Homo sapiens: one gene and its partner. The protein of the gene in region 1 interacts with the protein of each later gene in a pairwise test. Each region holds a gene or a part of one and is shown in the gene's direction. Other genes may lie near its edges. The genes, in order: NELL1 and ATXN7.

The links.
Region 2: the proteins of NELL1 (region 1) and ATXN7 interact in a two-hybrid assay, tested with the Homo sapiens proteins (one study listed by BioGRID and IntAct).

The regions. Positions count from the first base shown.
Region 1 is NC_000011.10:20,924,306-20,928,128, forward strand, and holds part of NELL1 (protein kinase C-binding protein NELL1 isoform 1 precursor), read left to right. Parts: intron 1-2,407; exon of another isoform or gene 2,408-2,491; intron 2,492-3,002; coding exon 3,003-3,137; intron 3,138-3,823. UniProt on the Homo sapiens protein: Plays a role in the control of cell growth and differentiation. Promotes osteoblast cell differentiation and terminal mineralization.
Region 2 is NC_000003.12:63,982,251-63,986,073, forward strand, and holds part of ATXN7 (ataxin-7), read left to right. Parts: coding exon 1-195; intron 196-688; coding exon 689-771; intron 772-3,823. UniProt on the Homo sapiens protein: Acts as a component of the SAGA (aka STAGA) transcription coactivator-HAT complex. Mediates the interaction of SAGA complex with the CRX and is involved in CRX-dependent gene activation.

The DNA.
Region 1 (3,823 bases):
TTTGCCTTAACATCCCTTTGCCTTTGTGTCTATTTGGTGTGCTCTTATTATTACAGACAATAGGACTTCTCAATGTTGTCAGAAAAGGCTACAAATATTAAAAATAAAAACCACATTCAGAAGGGAAACAAAATCAGCCTTGAGAATAGCATTCATTATATTAAAACTGACATTTTCTTTGGAATTGAGTTTTGTAGGTGAGCACAGCTCAGCTTTGTGGGACAGTGCTAGAAATTGCCACTATTTCCCTTAGGCAAGCTCCTGGATTTTAAGAAAGCTCAGATAGATATAGAGTTGCCTTTTGGGCCATTTAGTCCTTAAGAAGTTCCCTTCTTGGAGTGATATAGACACCAGAATTGTTCCAGATTTTCAGAGTAAGGCACGTATGGGTCCTCTCACAAAGGTACACAATTCTGAGACCCTTTTAGGAGGAATGCAGATCTGGTTCAACTCTGTTGTTCAATCCAAGGTCATATATCTGTTACTGCCTTGTGTAGGAACTACTGGGGCTATGGAAATGAAGTAAAGATAAGTGATAAGTTGTTACTTTCTTTCTATTGAGGTTCCACATCTGTGGATTCAACCAACCATGGACCAACAATACTCAGAAAAAAATTCCAAAAAGTTACAGAGAGTAAAACTTGAATTTTCCATGTACCGAGTACTGCATTGAATCCATGTGAATGAATTGATGTTTAGACATTGTATTACTTATTATAAGTTATCTAGAGATGACTTAAAGTGTATAGGAGGATGTGCATACGTTATATGCAAACTATACTATTTTATATAAAGGACTTGAAGATTTTCAGATTTTGGTATCTGCAAGTGGCCAAACCATATGCCATCATCCCTCAGTGTCCAAGAGTATCACCAAACTCAGCAGTGTATTTTATCCGTTTCCTAAAGCATTGCCAAATAACTTAATTATCATAGATTCTATAAACTCTATGATTAGGCTGGAGTTTTGTTGTATTAATTTATTTATTTATTGAGATGGAGTATCGCTCTGTTGCCCAGGCTGGAGTGCACTGGCATGATCTTGGCCTGCTGCAACCTCTGCCTCCCAGGTTCAAGAGATTCTCATGTCTCAGCCTCCAGAGTAGCTGGTGGTACCCGCTACCACACCCGGCTTTTTTTTTTTTTTTTTTTGTATTTGTAGTGGAGACAGGGTTTCGCCATGTTGGCTGGGTTGGTCTCAAACTCCTGACCTTGGGTCATCTGCTCGTCTTGGCCTCCCAAAGTGCTGGGATTATAGGTGTGAGTCACTGCACTTGACCTAGGCTGGAGTTTTAAATGAAACATGGATTTTTAGAAGATCATGCATATTAGAAGGAGTGATAGGAAGCTAATATTTCAGGCAGCGTCAACTCTTAGTTCTTTAGGGGCTGCTCATGGTGCATGGTGGTTGGTCTAAGATCCTATTTTTTGTTTTTTCTACCCTTTGCTACCACCCACAAAAGGCAGACAAGGGGTAAATTTTCTTGAGAAATTCCAAAAGCTTGGAGGAAGAGGATGAAATAAATGACAAAAACAAAGGTTAGAATTACATGTGGATTCCATTTCCAGAGAGTAGTTCTGGTATGAGTAAGTCAGAGGAAGGTGTATGAAATGGAACCATAGTTAATGTAGAAAGATGGTGGAAGTCATTCCCTAGGTTTATCTATTATGTCTAAAATAGTGGCTCAAAATAATCTTAGTTAGATCAAAGGTTGAATTGATCTCCTGTATGGGGAAAGTACTTAAGACATGAAAGGATAAACATGATTGAGAAGGAAAAGAGAAACTCAGATAATTTTCTAGGAAACGATACTTGTTTTTCAATCATGGTGGTCTCTATGTAAGGGAAAGGAAAGGAAGAGTAATATCACTACTAGGTTGAGTTACTCTTTCGTGTGGATGTGACAGTAGACAGATCATATCAAAGTGCTGTATTTAGGGTTTTTTTGCACCATATTTTTGAAGGTAAACTGGAGTAGGCTGTATGAAAAGTGATCAGAAGAGAGGCTTGGAATCATATCATGAGGAGCTGTTAAGGGAACCTGGTGGTGCCAAGTGTGGTCAAGACGACAGGATAACCTCAAATGCTTGAAGATTAGGTTTGCTCAGGATGGATTACAATGAAAACCTAGGTATGGCAGGAAAAAAAGAAAGATTTCACAGCCAAAACCATGAAAAATGTTTCAAACAAGAGAGCTAACTGAGAAAAGTGGCTTTCCTTGGAAGATAATACATGTTCCTCCACTGGAGATGTACAAAGGCTAGATAATCACTTGAGGTTTCTTGTGAGGATATTCAAGCTTTATAATCCCTTTCCAGCAGGAGAGTCTAAGACTCTGTGATTATTGGCAATGACTGGGTGGCCTAGAAAAATAAAAAAGGTTATTTTACAAAATTCTGATCTTACCTGGGGTTTTGGTTACTTTTCCTGTCCTTCTTCTAAGCACAAAAGTGAATTCCTGGGGCATTCTGTTTGGGGGATCCGCTTACGACTTTTCTTTTTTTCTGACCCCAGCTCTCCAGAATTTTTCATCAGACAGAAGGCAGTGACTTCCTAGTTTGTAAACCACGACATTCTAGTTAGTGTGTGAAGAACATAGAGAGGATAGTGGGAGATAAATGTAAGTGCCTCGGAGTTCCTGATTAGATCGCCTGTAAACATCATAATGAGTCCTTGAGAACACATTCATTATGAGTGTTTTTGTGTGGGCTTGAATGGAAAGCACACACATTTATGAACACCCATGAGGTTCCTGAGTTACAGTTTAATGTCTCATTTGGTATTCATTAGACCATGACAGCCAATATTTCTTCAATTTAGAGTGATTCCACCTTGTGTAAAAAAAATAAAAAAAACAAAAAACAGATAATGCTAAGAATCAGTGAACTGCTCTGAGCATTTTTTTCTCTTCTCAGAAGGATTTTTTTTCTTGTTGCTATTAGCTTTGTTAGGATGATGCAATTGAATTACAGAAATTACATTCAGTAACTCTTGTTTGCAGCTAAATTATGCAGAGACAAGACTTAGTCAATTGGAAAACTGTCATTGTGAGAAGACTTGTCAAGTGAGTGGACTGCTCTATCGAGATCAAGACTCTTGGGTAGATGGTGACCATTGCAGGAACTGCACTTGCAAAGTAAGCCTCTTTGTAAATAAATACAGTAAAAACAGTTTTAAGGGGAGAGGTTTGATAATTAGAGTGTAACCTGGTTCTTTAATAAATAATATTAACTCTGAGAATTGTTAGGTTTTTACCTAGCACCCACTAGCCATACGAGCAATTGTGAAGCAATGCTGGAAGAGTGTCATGTCTTATATGAATACTTGGAAATTAAAATCTGCTTTCCCTTGCCAACACACCCTAATTTGATTTAATAGGCAATGTTTGGAGTTTGAAGGTTGGGATATAGTGGAAAGAAGGGACTCCTTTGATTTTCAAACAACCTAATGGTTATCCTTATTCACAACCAGAATAACTTTAAAAGGGGAGTTTAATTATTTTCTACATGTTTTTATTGTCTTTTGCAAAGTGTATCCATCACCTGTTTCAAATAATTGCAAGGCATTTCCTCCCTGACTCACTGTCAGTGTGAGGATATCCATTATTTGTATATCCCTTCATCTGTTTCAGTGAATTACAACATCCCCCTCCAAAAATTAGTATGGAAACCCTGTCCAGTTGAAATTACTTGATAAATATCTGAAGAATGCCATTGTTTGTCTAGGAAAATACAAAACAGATTGTTAGAGCCTCAGAAATGATTGACAGAGTCTGCAAATGTGTTATTTATGTTCTTATAAAAATAGACTTTTTGTTTTCTG
Region 2 (3,823 bases), on another chromosome or scaffold:
CGGTGGGGCCAACCTGTCCTGCTACTGTGAGTTCCTTAGTCAAGCCTGGCCTTAACTGCCCCTCAATACCAAAGCCAACCTTGCCTTCACCTGGACAGATTCTGAATGGCAAAGGGCTTCCTGCACCGCCCACTCTGGAAAAGAAACCTGAAGACAATTCCAATAATAGGAAATTTTTAAATAAGAGATTATCAGGTAACTTCAAATTTTCTTTCTTCATAATGCTTCTCTATATATTAAATGGGCATTCGTGGGGAGCAAATCAACTGCAATCTAGAATTCCTATTTTTAAAACTGGTCAACTTCAGCTTTAGGAGGAAGTTCCTTAGTTAATATGTTTGTTCTTTTCACTCTTGGGTTTTAAAGAGCATGAGTGTGTGTGTGTGTGTGTGTGTGTGTGTGTGTGTGTCATGTAAAAGTAGCTTTCTAGTGGTGTATTTCTGAAGGAAGTAATACAGACTTAAACAATATCTTTTCTACCATCTGATGGCAGTAGTCACCCCCTGTCTTAGTGATGTTGCTGCTTTGTTGCAGCACTCACACGTTGTATATTTTTTATTTTATTGATAATGTGGCTTTTATTCCAGCTATAATTTATCTAACTGTTGATTTCTTCTATTTTCTTGCTTAAAAAATACATGGAGGAGAGTTTGTCAGGCCACATGTAATGCCTGTGTTCTTTTGACAGAAAGAGAGTTTGATCCTGACATCCACTGTGGGGTTATTGATCTCGACACCAAGAAGCCCTGCACCCGGTCTTTGACATGCAAGGTAGGTGGACTCCTGAAAGTCAAGTCGACCATCCTGATAAACATGGGTGACTGGGATGTACCACACTACTCCCACAGTCTCTCTAACCCAGAGAAGATGCTCTGTGGATTGTTGTGAATTGTGTAGGTGAAGGAATAACTTGGTTCTGTTGAAGAAAGCCTCAGATTGACAAAATGTGAAGTGCGTTGTTATAAATTATAATCTTGACAGAGGTTTTGTTTCTAATGAGCAGTGTTGTATCCACAGGAATAGTGTTCTCTCCCAGTCTGTTATTTTTAAAAACTTTTAATATTTCCATATAGGCTACCCTTGACTGTGCTTTAAATTATACTGGCTTAAAGCAAGTGCAGAAATTTCCCTTGCGTGTGTATGAACATTTAAAAAATGTGTCACCCATGGTCTTAAATTTTAAAGAACCACTTTTTAAAAAATCTGTGATTTTGAAATATCCCTGTTTTCTAGTTTAAAAAAAAAATACTGCAAGCCAGGCATGCCTGTAAGTCCCAGCTAGTGGGGAGGCTGAGGCAGAAGGATTGCTTGAGCCTAGGAGTTTGAGTCCAGCCTGGAGAACATTACGAGACCCATCTCTTTTAAGAGAAAAAAAAAACTAGATAAAATATATTAATAATTTATATACAAGCTAAGAAAATGTAATGGTCTTCCTTTTTGCTCTGGGGTCTTCCTTCTTTTAAAATGCCAGTATGCTAATAAGGTATATTTGCTGAAAAGTGTGGGTTATTGATGTGGGGTGGCTTCAGGTCATCAGTGAACACCTCTACATAAATGAGCTTGTATGTTGATGTGCATTTCTCTGGAGGGTGTCCCCAGCTACCCCCCAGATAGGTTCAAGAAGCATTCAGAGTCACTGCTTTGAAGTATGTAATTTTAAAACCTTAGAGGGAGGAAGTAAAAATGATAAAAGTTAGCATTTTCTTCTAAAAATTAATAAAATTGTTAGTGTTTTACTTTAAATTTTATTAAAGTGTATTTGAATAAAGGACTTCAGGCCCTGTCCCATGCCCCAGCCAGTGGAGGCATGTTACAGTCTTCTGGAGTGGGAAATTTTTAAGTGGTTCTTACTTTAAGCTTCTAATTTAATTTTAGTATATAGATTTTGTCTTACAACAGTGGTTCAGAACCTTTTTGGGGAAAAGGGTTGGTCAAGAGTACCTTTAAATATCTCATTTTTAAAAAAAAAAAACCACGGTCCATCTTCCGAGAATAAAATAGTGCATACACATACACATTCTGAATTTTTCTATCTTGGATTAATGGACACCCCCACCCCAAGCCCATCCTTGGATTTCTAGGTTAAAAACTCTCATAAAACAAACTGCTTTTTTTTTGTATAGGGTACTAATTGGACACACAGTGGTGTAGTGGTGGTGGTGTATGAAGATAGCCACCTGAGTTCTGTAGAATTATGTCAGTTTCAGCTGTCCCTAAGAGAATGTGTGAAAGCATGCCTCAGCCCTGTCCACATCATGATCACAACTTGCCATTCTCCTTCTGCGCTCTTCCTGCCTACCTGACTCTCAGTAACATGGATTTCTCAGTAATACAGTACCTGTGGGCAATGAGGTTTGCTTTTTTCAAACCCAAGATGTTCTTTTTCAGTCATTTACAAAGCGTGGCAGGGAACCACACCTTTAAGTGTGCAAGACAGTATTGTTGACTGTGAAAGAATATTATACAGCAGATGTCTAGAACTTGTTCATCTTGCTATAACTGAAACTTTATGCTCATTGATTAGTAACTCCTTATTTCGCTCTCCCTTCAGCCGCTGGCAGCCACCACTCTAGTTGTTGATTCTGTGAGTTTGATTATAGATCTCATATAAGTGGAATCATGCGGTGTTTAGTCATTATGTGACTGGGTTATTTATCTTAGTATAATGTCTTCAAGCTTACCTCATACTTGTTGTAGCATATTGCAGAATTTCCTTCTTTTTAAGGGCTGAATAGTATTCCAGTGTATGTATATACTATGTTGTCTTCATCCAGTCACCTGTTGACAGACATTTATATTGTTTCTACATCTTGTCTATTATAAATAATACTTCAGTGAACATAGGAGTTCTAATAGCTCTTTGAGATTCTGATTTCAGTTATTTTGGATAACTACCCAGAAGTGAGGTTGCCAAAAGTTTTTTTTCAACTCAAAATCTTCAAGGAGCTTGACTGGCATTCTTCCTGTGCCTTTATTGCTAGGTGGAGTGACTTTGAATGGGTCTGCATTTTTCTCACATCTTCCTTTTCAAATGATATATGCTCCCCTTGTCGTCCTTCTTTAAGGGTGTCATTACTCTCCGTGGCATTGGGCTAAGCCTGTCATTGCATTAATAAGTCTTGAGACCCAGCTTGTCATGAGATCAGCATAGAACTGGCAGAAAATGCAGCATCCACCAGGCCTGCCCTTTTACAGGATGACTTGACTTTTTTTCATTGTTTTGTCAGTTCTTTTCCTTTTCCTTGCCTTCACGTTGGTCTGAATCTATTAAGCTTGGTAGGGCTAAACATGCCTGCATGTCCCTACCCTGAGTGTTTCCCAAGTTGCTGCCAGGTCTCTTCTGTCTTAGACTTAGAACGTTATCTGTTCTCTTCACCGTCAGGGGATTTGCTGCTGTTCATTCCCATTACTCATTCTCTGTTGTCTGTCTCCCATCCTCACTGCCCCTCCTCACTTCTTCATCTGTCTAATATCCCGTCGAAAGTCCTCTGTGCCTTCCACGCGGAGAGATTTGTGACTCCTGTAGCCTTTGTCCATTCACTCATTGTAGAACTTTTTATTACGTACATCTGTGAGCACAGGCCTCACTCTTTCTAGGTCGCAGGGAATAAAGGGTTTAGCACAATAACCACGTGTTCCCTATGCTTGTGGTGCTTACAGTCTAATGAAAGAGATGGAGAGTATTAATCACCAAAATAACTGTAAAATTACCACTGATGAGTTATAAAAAGATGAGAGGACTACATTATGAAAGCCTGCAAAAATGAAGTTTTTCCAGGGAAGGCTTTCTTGCCATAGGAACATTGGGCTGAAATCAATGTGA